2 separate regions of the Homo sapiens genome follow, and region 1 is linked to region 2. Evidence: fine-mapped expression QTL. A gene starts in region 2. The other region holds a variant in brackets. All regions are shown on one strand. Distances are from middle to middle.

Region 1 (4,343 bases), 670 kb after region 2:
TCTACCTTCGTGGGGTCTTGAACAGCTTCTGTTCCTAATACTCGCATCAAATTAGAAATTCTCACTGCAGTGAAGAGAGGACAACAATCAGTCTTTGAAGTCACTTCTCCAGCTGGAGTAACTTGTTATTTCTTCCATACCAATTCATATTATTTACCTATTTCAAATCTCTGCTCTAAACTCACTTCCTCCAATAACTCCTATCTTGAAAATCCCATCCAATCACTTCAGCATTTGCAGAAGTTCACACAATTAAGTTGAAGATTGGTATGCATTTACATTATCTGAAAATTTATGAAGGACGTGGAACTTAATTCCTTTCATATTTTTCACACTGATCACAGCATCTAGTGAAAGAGCTTATAAATAATAGTGCTCAGTCAAAATACTGCTGAACGAGAATGTAACTACAGGGTCAAGTTTTTTATCCTGTACTTTCATTGTAAAAATTAAAACATTAAGAATTATGTACATAAAAAGTCTACGCAAATACTGCAACTACTATCTCCATGAATTTCAAGACCTGTATTCTTCCAGGAAAACCAGAGTGTTGTATGATCAGTATGCTTAAAAATAAGCCATAAATGGCCTCTATAATGAATGTGTTGACCTATCTTAATATGAAAAGATGGTAGAAAACTTGGAGAAAAAGGACCCCAAGAATAATTCTTAGAAACAGAAATCACTCAAACACAGAGATGTTAAAGTTCCTCCAGGATTAAAGACATAAACTTGCCACTCTTTTTAACAGAAGAGGCCACTGAGAAATGCACCTTTGGGTTCTGGAGGAGGCATCAGGCCCAGCCTGACTTTTTCTTGTAGTTCCTTCTGTGCTTCCCTCCTTGTTTGTCTCCGAAGTTTTTTCTGTTCCTTCTTGGTAAGATATACTCCCAGAGTAACTGGTGTGTCATTGTCAACTGTCAGGCAGAGATATTAGTATACCAAAGCAGTAAGAATACATATATATATATATATATTTTTTTTTTTTCTCTCTCTCACTCTGTCACCCAGGTTGGAGTGCAATGGCACGATCTCAGCTCACTGTAGCCTCTGCCTCCTGGGTTCAAGTAATTCTCCTGCCTCAGCCTCCCGAGTAGCTAGGATTACAGGCACACGCCACCATGCCTGGCTAATGTTTGTATTTTTAGTAGAGATGGGGTTTCACCATGTTGGCCAGGCATGAGCCACCAGGCCCGGACAGCAATAAAAATATTAAAGAAACCTAGGTAAATATCAATATCATTAAAAGAAACTTTAGGCTGGACACAGTGGCTTATGCCTGTAATTCTAGCACTTTGATAGGCCAAGGTGGGAGGATGGCGTGAGCCCAAGAGTTCGAGACCAGCCTGGACAACCAAGTGAGACCCAACTCTATTATAAACATTTTATGTAAAAAATATATTGAGGCCAGGTGCGGTGGATCACACCTGTAATCCCAGCACTTTGGGAGGCACGGGTGGGCAGATCACGAGGTCAAGAGATCGAGACCAGCCTGGCCAACATGGTGAAACCCTGACTCCACTAAAAATACAAAAATTAGCTGGGCGTGGTGGCACGCACCTGTAGTCCCAGCTACTCGGGAGGCTGAGGCAGGAGAATCACTTGAATCCGGGAGGTGGAGGTTGCAGTGAGCCGAGATTGTGCCACTTGCCACTGCACTCTAGCCTGGCAACACAGCGAGACTCCATTTCAAAAAACATGTGTGTGTGTGTGTGTGTGTATAAACTTTAAATAGAAAATGAAGAAAACTCGTTAATAAGGGATCAGTAAGATTAAAATCAGTTCAGGCCTGGTGCCCGGCAATATGGCTATGTTTTTAAAAAACATTCTTATCTTTCCTTTTGTTGAGACGGAGTCTCGCTCTGCTGCCCAGGCTGGAGTGCAGTGGCGCAATCTCAGCTCACTGCAAGCTCTGCCTCCTGGGTTCACACCATTCTCCTGCCTCAGCCTCCTGAGTAGCTGGGACTACAGGCACCCGCCACCACGTCTGGCTAATTTTTGTATTTTTAGTAGAGACGGGGTTTCACCTTGTTAGCCAGGATGGTGTTGATTTCTTGACCTCGTGATCTGCCCGCCTCGGCCTCCCAAAGTGCTGGGATTACAGGCATGAGCCACCTCGCCTGGCCTCTTATCTTTCTTAAGTAGTGTTCTTAGTTGTTTTCCTTTAAGCTGTTAAACCCCCTCATTCAATGATACCTGGCAAATGTAGAAAACAAAATTAGGGCCAGGTGCGGTGGCTCACGC[C/T]GGTAAACCCAGCACTTTGGGAAGCCTAGGTGGGCAGATCACTTGAGGTCAGGAGTTCAAGACAAGCATGACCAACATGGCAAAACCCTGTCTCTACTAAAAGTTCAAAAACTAGCCAGGTGTGGTGGCAGGCACCTATAATCCAAGCTACTCCGGAGGCTAAGGCCGGAGAATAGCTTCAACCCAGGGGGGTGAAAGTTGCAGTGAACGGAGATAGTGCCATTGCACTCCAGCCTGGGTGACAAAAGCGAAACTCCAACTCAAAAAAAAAAAAAAGGCCGGGCGCGGTGGCTCACACCTATAATCCCAGCACTTTGGGAGGCCAAGGCTGGCAGATCACCTGAGGTCAGGAGTTCAAGACCAGCCTGACCAAACATGGTGAAACCCTGTCTCTACTAAAAATACAAAATTAGCTGGGCGTGGTGGCACATGCCTGTAATCCCAGCTACTCAGGAGGCTGAGGCAGGAGAATTGCTTGAACCCAGGAGGCAGAGGTTGTGGTGAGCTGAGATCATGCCGTTGCACTGCAGCCTGGACCACAAGAGCGAAACTCCTCCTCAAAAAAAAAAAAAAAAAAAAAATAGAAGCAACTTTGTTTCCCAGTTTCAACTTTGGGAAACTAACAAAAAGCCCTTTGGAATTAGCATCCCTCACAGTGGGTAGTGGAGCATATCGCATCTAATAACACACCAACCCAAGAGTTTGGCTCTTGCATTTGCATTTAGCTGTGGATGCCACAACAACATGTGGTTCTATAAAAGGAGCAAGCTGAGGGCTCTTTCCTAGGAACAACCAGGGAACTGTAAATGTAAAGCTTCATGAAATTTTGGGTTTTTTTCTTTCTTTCTTTCTTCTTTTTTTTTTTTTTTTTTTTTTGAGACAAGGTCTGGCAGTATCATCCAGGCTGGAGTGCAGCAGCACCATCTCAGCTCACTGCAACTTCCACCTCCCAGGCTCAAGCCATCCTCCACACCTCAGCCTCCCAAGAGGCTGGGACTACAGATGCACACCACCATGCCCGGCTGATTTTTTATTTTTTGTAGAGATGGGGTTTTGCCATGTTGCCTAGATCTCGAACTCCTGAGCTCAAGCAATCTGCCCACCTCAGCCTCCCAAAGTGCAGTGATTACAGGCATAAGCCACCATACCCAGCCAAATTTTTTTTCCTTGAGATGGGTCTCACTGTGTTGCCCAGACTGGTCTTGAATTCTTGGCCTCAAGCAATCCTCCTGCCTTGGCCTCCGAAAGTGTTTGGATTAGAGGCATGAGCCACCATGCTTGGCTGTCTCATGAAATTCTAAGCACAGGAATATGCACTTAAAATGTATGTTCACTGGTCAAACAACAAACTATTGTCAGGAAAAAAACTGAATTAAAAAAAAGAATTACACATGGGTAGTGGCTATTGTATTGAACAGCATAGATACAGAACATGTTCCTCACTGTATAAATTTCCAATGGGTAATGCTGCTCTAGAGACTTGATTCAGGAATCTATACATTACCTGGAGGATTGAGCTGGGCTGGATGTTCAACAAGATTTGTGATTCCAAAATAATCTTCTCTCTTGGGATTTTCCTCTGTACTAAAATTGTAGGAAGAAAAGAAAACACGATATGCGGGTAGAGATGATTCTAAGAGAGGAGTCTCAGAAATACAATGAAAAAACCCACTCTCTATAATGGGTTCTTGTGCTTGATATACCTAAAATAGCATTTAGGTACCTAAAATATATAGTTAAATTACACATAATTTTCATGATGAGAAAACTGAGTCCCTCTATGGTTGAACACACTCTCCACAGCAATCATTCTCAACCTTTTTTCTACCATGCCACAGCTGACAGACGCTATGTTCTCTCATTAGTGACAATAAGTCCCTGGAACAGTGGCTGACAAAGAAGGGGCAACGAAAGGCTAAGACAAAATCTACTAAAGCCATGTATCAGAATGATGGAGCAGGGCCAGGTGATGTGGCTTATGCCTATAATCCCAGCACTTTGGGAGATGAAGGCAGGTGGATCACCTGAGGTCAGGAGTTTGAGACCAGTTTGGCCAAATAGTGAAACTCTTGTCTACTAAAAATATAAAAACTGGCCAG
Region 2 (4,390 bases):
ATTGTTGGCATCTACCAGTATGTCTTGCCATCAGTTCCCCTGTTAACCTTCCTAGAGTCTAATTTTCTCATTTCTCCAGGCCCTGGAGAGGCTATGTGATGATGCAAGCTCTAAGACACAATCTCACCTTTCACAAGTTCACAAGTTTGAAAGGAAGATCTAGATCTTGCTCCTTGGGGGATGAATGCAGGGAGAGAAAGGTCGAGATGCCAGCAGTATTGGAAAAATCAAGTATTTTTCCAGCTTCATATTGCTGTAGAGAATATACTATTCGGGCTGGGTACAGTGGCTAACACCTGTAATTCCAACACCTTGGGAAGCCAAGCCAGGGGGATTGTTTGAGTCCAGGAGTTTGAAACCAGATTGGGCAGCATGGCGAGACCCTGTCTCTATAAAAATACAAAAAATTAGCCCTGCGTGGTGGCACTGCCTATAGTCGCAGCTTTTTCGGGAGGCTGAGGTGGGAGGATCACTTGAGCCGGGGAGGTGATCACACCATTGCACTCCAGCCAGGGCAACAGAGTGAGACCCTGGCTGAAAATAAATAAACAAATACAAAATAAAAATAGAGAATATACTACTAACCTGGGGGTCGGGGGAGGCTCTGGAGGATATATGCTGGAGAGTAGATGCATGCAAAGAAATACTATTTGGTGAGGTTTCAGGTCCAAGGGCACTTTACCAAATGGTGGAAGAGACCAGTCATTTGGGTTACTGGGGGGTAAAATCCAACTGTTTAGCACTTAGAACGGTGCCCCAAAAACTCTACATTAGTCCTCCAATAAGCGCCCTGTGGTGGACTCAGAGGTAACAAAAAGGGATTGGTTCCAAATGGCCTTATGCATTGAAATAACTCCCCAAATTTGTTTTTCACAAGGAAAATGTCTATGTAATTGGTGTTAAAATGGACCTTCTCCCCAATTCAATATGAAGACAATTCATTTATTCCAGCAGCTGAGTCTGCAGCAGGAATTAGTGACTTTCAGGATTTGTTAAAGACCAGAATCTGTCCCTCAGGGGAATTTGTAGAGTTTAAGATATCTAAAAAGGAAAGCTCAGCAAGCCATCTATCTAGGTTTCTTCAGGGCAGTATAACTCAAAGTAGAGGGGCCGGGTGACCTCCTGGAGCCTGTCTCTGGTTAGCTTTTTGCTGCTAACTGGGGATAACAGCCTAATGCCTCATGACGGCTCAGCATGGCTGGGTGAGTCCAACTGAGTCAGAGAGCACCAAAAATAAGCCACAAAGCATTGAGTAGTCATATTTATGGTTTTGATTCCAAACACACTTTGTGCTTATCCCTTCCAAGTGGAGAATTTTTATGTCATTTGTGTGCGTTAAGGCCAAAGGAGAAACCTGGAGGCAAAGGAATGCTGGTTGTGGGTCAACAAATATGCCTGATGGATTTTGTATGTTTGGCTTAAAAACACTGACTTAAAGTAAAATACTGTGACTACTTCTAACCTAGAAATGAGTTCAGCCCGCCAGACAGAAACTGCCATTCGGAGGAAATAAGGCCGTGAGCACCGGTTCCCTCCACACCCCCGAGGTTCACCTGGAGGCCAGTGGGCCAAGCGAAGCCTTGGGAGCGGAGAACTCAAAGAGGGGCGGGGAGAAAAGAATAAACACACCTCGCGGGGCTAGGCTGGCGGCGGCACAGTCCTGGTTTTTTTGATGGAACTGACCAAGATGACAGCAAGCAGAGGCTCAAATGCAGGATTCAGACCCAAGACTTCTCCCCGCTCTCAGGCGGACCCCAAAGGCGGGGAGCCAAAAACCGGGAGACTGAACAAGCAGCATTCTCACGCTCCTAAACTGGCTTCTCGCTCCTCGCTCCTCATGCCCCAAAACTGATCAGGCCCCAACCCCCCTCCCCACAACTCAGTGTTCCCTCCACACGGACCGTCGAGGCTCCCCCAGATCCCACGTCTTCGTCCTTCCTGGACCCCGTGCTCCATTCCTTACAGTCACAGACAGGGATTCGTTACCTGCAGAGCAGCTCGACAACCCTGCAGGTAGTCCTCCATGATGAAGCCCAAAGTACGCCGTCGCCCCTGGTCGAGTAGAGGTGCCCCTGGTCGAGGAGAGGTTTCCCCGACGAATGCAGCCCGCCCGGGACTCAGGGACTAGAGGCCAGAGTCAGGAGGCGGGACTCGAACCCGCCACACGGCGAATCGGCCTCCGACCCCGGGAGGAACTGCGTAAGCGGGCGCTCCGGAGTCCGGCGTCGCCCCGCCCCCAGCGGCGGAGGCGGGGCTCTACGCCCAGAGGCTCCTGGGACGTCTTTCCGGCGAGGCCAAGGGGGCGTGGCGTGGGGCGACGTGGGAAACGTAGTCCCGCAACTCCGCAATGTCCCTAGCAACCGAGGGAAGGATTGTTTTCTGAGGGATCAGTCGTTCGGTAAACAAATGTGTATGTGTCACAGTAACCCATTATTGTGGCATCTGAACTTTCCCTCTCAGATCAGGCCAAGTATAACATCTTTACATATATCACACCGAGCATCTGGTGACATTTTAAATGACACTTGGCAAAACAGATCATCTTCTTTCTACAAATTCTGCCCTTTACCAAACTGACTCAGTCGCCACCAATTTTGTGGTTGTTCATGTTAGGAGAACATTAGAATAATCTTTGACCCCTCTTGTTAACACCTACAGTCTCCTGCCAACTCCTGCTGCTTCTCCCTTTGCAACTCTGTAGCCTGTTTTTTTCTACAGCCTCGGCAAATATCTTCTTCCTTTCTTGGACGGTTGTAACCTTGGCTTTTTGCTCTCTGCCACCCTAATTGTTCCAATTGCTCTTTCAGCCTTTAGAGTTGCTTGAAATTTCATCCTGTGGCGGCCCTGTACATAGAGTTTAGGGAACCCTTCAGAATGTGGAGTTAGGTTCCAACCTCCCTTAACTGCCACTTTCCAGCCGCAGAGTAGTGCAGGTACTGCAAATAAATGGACACTCATCATCAAAAATTCCCTCATTTATTTATCTATCCCTTTATTTCCTACCGTCAGCCTCACACCAGCTTTTCCTGCTTCCCCAGCTGTAAATCGAGAGGAGGTGACTGATGAGAGGCCTGCAGTGGAACCAAGATCCAGAGCACAGGCGTGTTGGATCTCCTGCCTGCTCTGCCAGTTCTTTTCTTCTTCTTCTTCTTTTTGAGACGGAGTCTTGCTCCGTCTTCAGGCTGGAGTGCAGTGGCAGGATCTTGGCTCACTGCAACCTCCACCTCCCGGGTTCAAGCGATTCTCCTGCCTCAGCCTCCCGAGTAGCTGGGACTACAGGCATGTGCCACCATGCCCTGCTAATTTTTGTATTTTTAGTAGAGATGGGGTTTCACTATGTTGGCCAGGTTGGTCTTGATCTCTTGACCTTGTGATCCGCCCGCCTTGGCTTCCCAAAGTGCTGGGATTACAGGCGTCAGCCATCGCGCCCAGAGCCTGGGGCTTCTACCACACCCTCTGCACTCTACCAGGTGCACAACCCAACCAGTTTCATTTCTAGACTTAAAAATGATACAGCAAGGACTTGGAAAGGAGCTCTCTGGAGGGCTCCAGAGGGAAAAGAGCTGGGTTTGTTTGTTTGTTTTTAACATTAATTGAGTAATACATGCAAATATCGTGCTCTTTGCTCCTGCTTCTGTGGATCCAGAGCAAAGGACTGCCATACCCAGAGAGAGAGCCCAGATCCAACAAGCTGCTTCTGTCCAGCCCTTCTCCTCCCTACTTAGCAAGGGCACTTGCTCTTCCCTATTCTCACCAGAGAGGCACAAGCGCTCCGTCCCTTCTAGAGGCAGGCAGAGGGAAGAGAAAGGGTCTGTTGTTTTTCTCTCCTGTTTCTCGCTCCCTCTCTGCTGATCACAAAGCTGCTGACCGGGTCAGAAAGTCCTGATGGAAATCCACCAGCGCTGGGCAGGCCCCTCCTCCTCCAGGGAGCTTGTCCTTGCCTAATTTTTCTTCGTCCTGATGAGAACAAAAAAGAGAGAGAGAAGAAAAGAAAAACCACAAACTTCCTTTGAAAACCAGCTTGTAGTCAGGGCCCGGAGCGCATGCCATAGACTCGGCGACTCAGGAATCCTGAAGACTCTCTGAGCGACCTGGAGCACCTTGGCTGTGTCCCTGCCTGCCTTCACCCTCCTCCAGTGCCCCCAGTACTGGGCGTGAGTCCGGAAGTGGCCACAACCCAGCCTGGACCGTCGCTTATAAAGCTGTGTAAACCTGTATAAGCTCAGGCGTTGACAGCTGGAAGGCAGCTGGCACTGGCAGCCCCCTTCATTGCACCTATCTCCCCCATCTCATTGCCACGGCTGAACCCTCCTTCTCAATCTTGGAACAGCACCCCCTTCTTTAAGGTAAAAACTTTATTTTAATCATCTTCTTCACCTCTTCTCCCACC

Evidence for each region. PIP is the estimated chance that this variant, and not a neighbour inherited with it, causes the effect. A credible set is the group of variants that fine-mapping cannot tell apart.
Region 1: its variant is the best candidate, but not a certain one, in a credible set for the expression of PRUNE1 in whole blood (TOPMed, PIP 0.59).

What each region holds. Positions count from the first base shown.
Region 1 is chr1:150,339,883-150,344,225 of GRCh38, reverse strand. PRPF3 (pre-mRNA processing factor 3) reads right to left here. Exons shown (of 16, transcript NM_004698.4): 9 at 3,749-3,828; 10 at 774-917; 11 at 1-64. Among named protein-coding and RNA genes, the nearest start is that of PRPF3, 21 kb to the right of the region's middle. The variant C/T (reference allele first, on the strand shown) is at 2,245.
Region 2 is chr1:151,006,268-151,010,657 of GRCh38, reverse strand. PRUNE1 (prune exopolyphosphatase 1) reads right to left here and starts at 2,209. Exons shown (of 8, transcript NM_021222.3): 1 at 1,987-2,209. The coding sequence starts at 2,025. It overlaps MINDY1 (MINDY lysine 48 deubiquitinase 1), which reads left to right and starts at 3,756. Exons shown (of 10, transcript NM_001376665.1): 1 at 3,756-4,346. RefSeq lists enhancers at 1,570-1,619, 1,275-1,815, 1,816-2,358, 3,851-4,030, 4,261-4,390.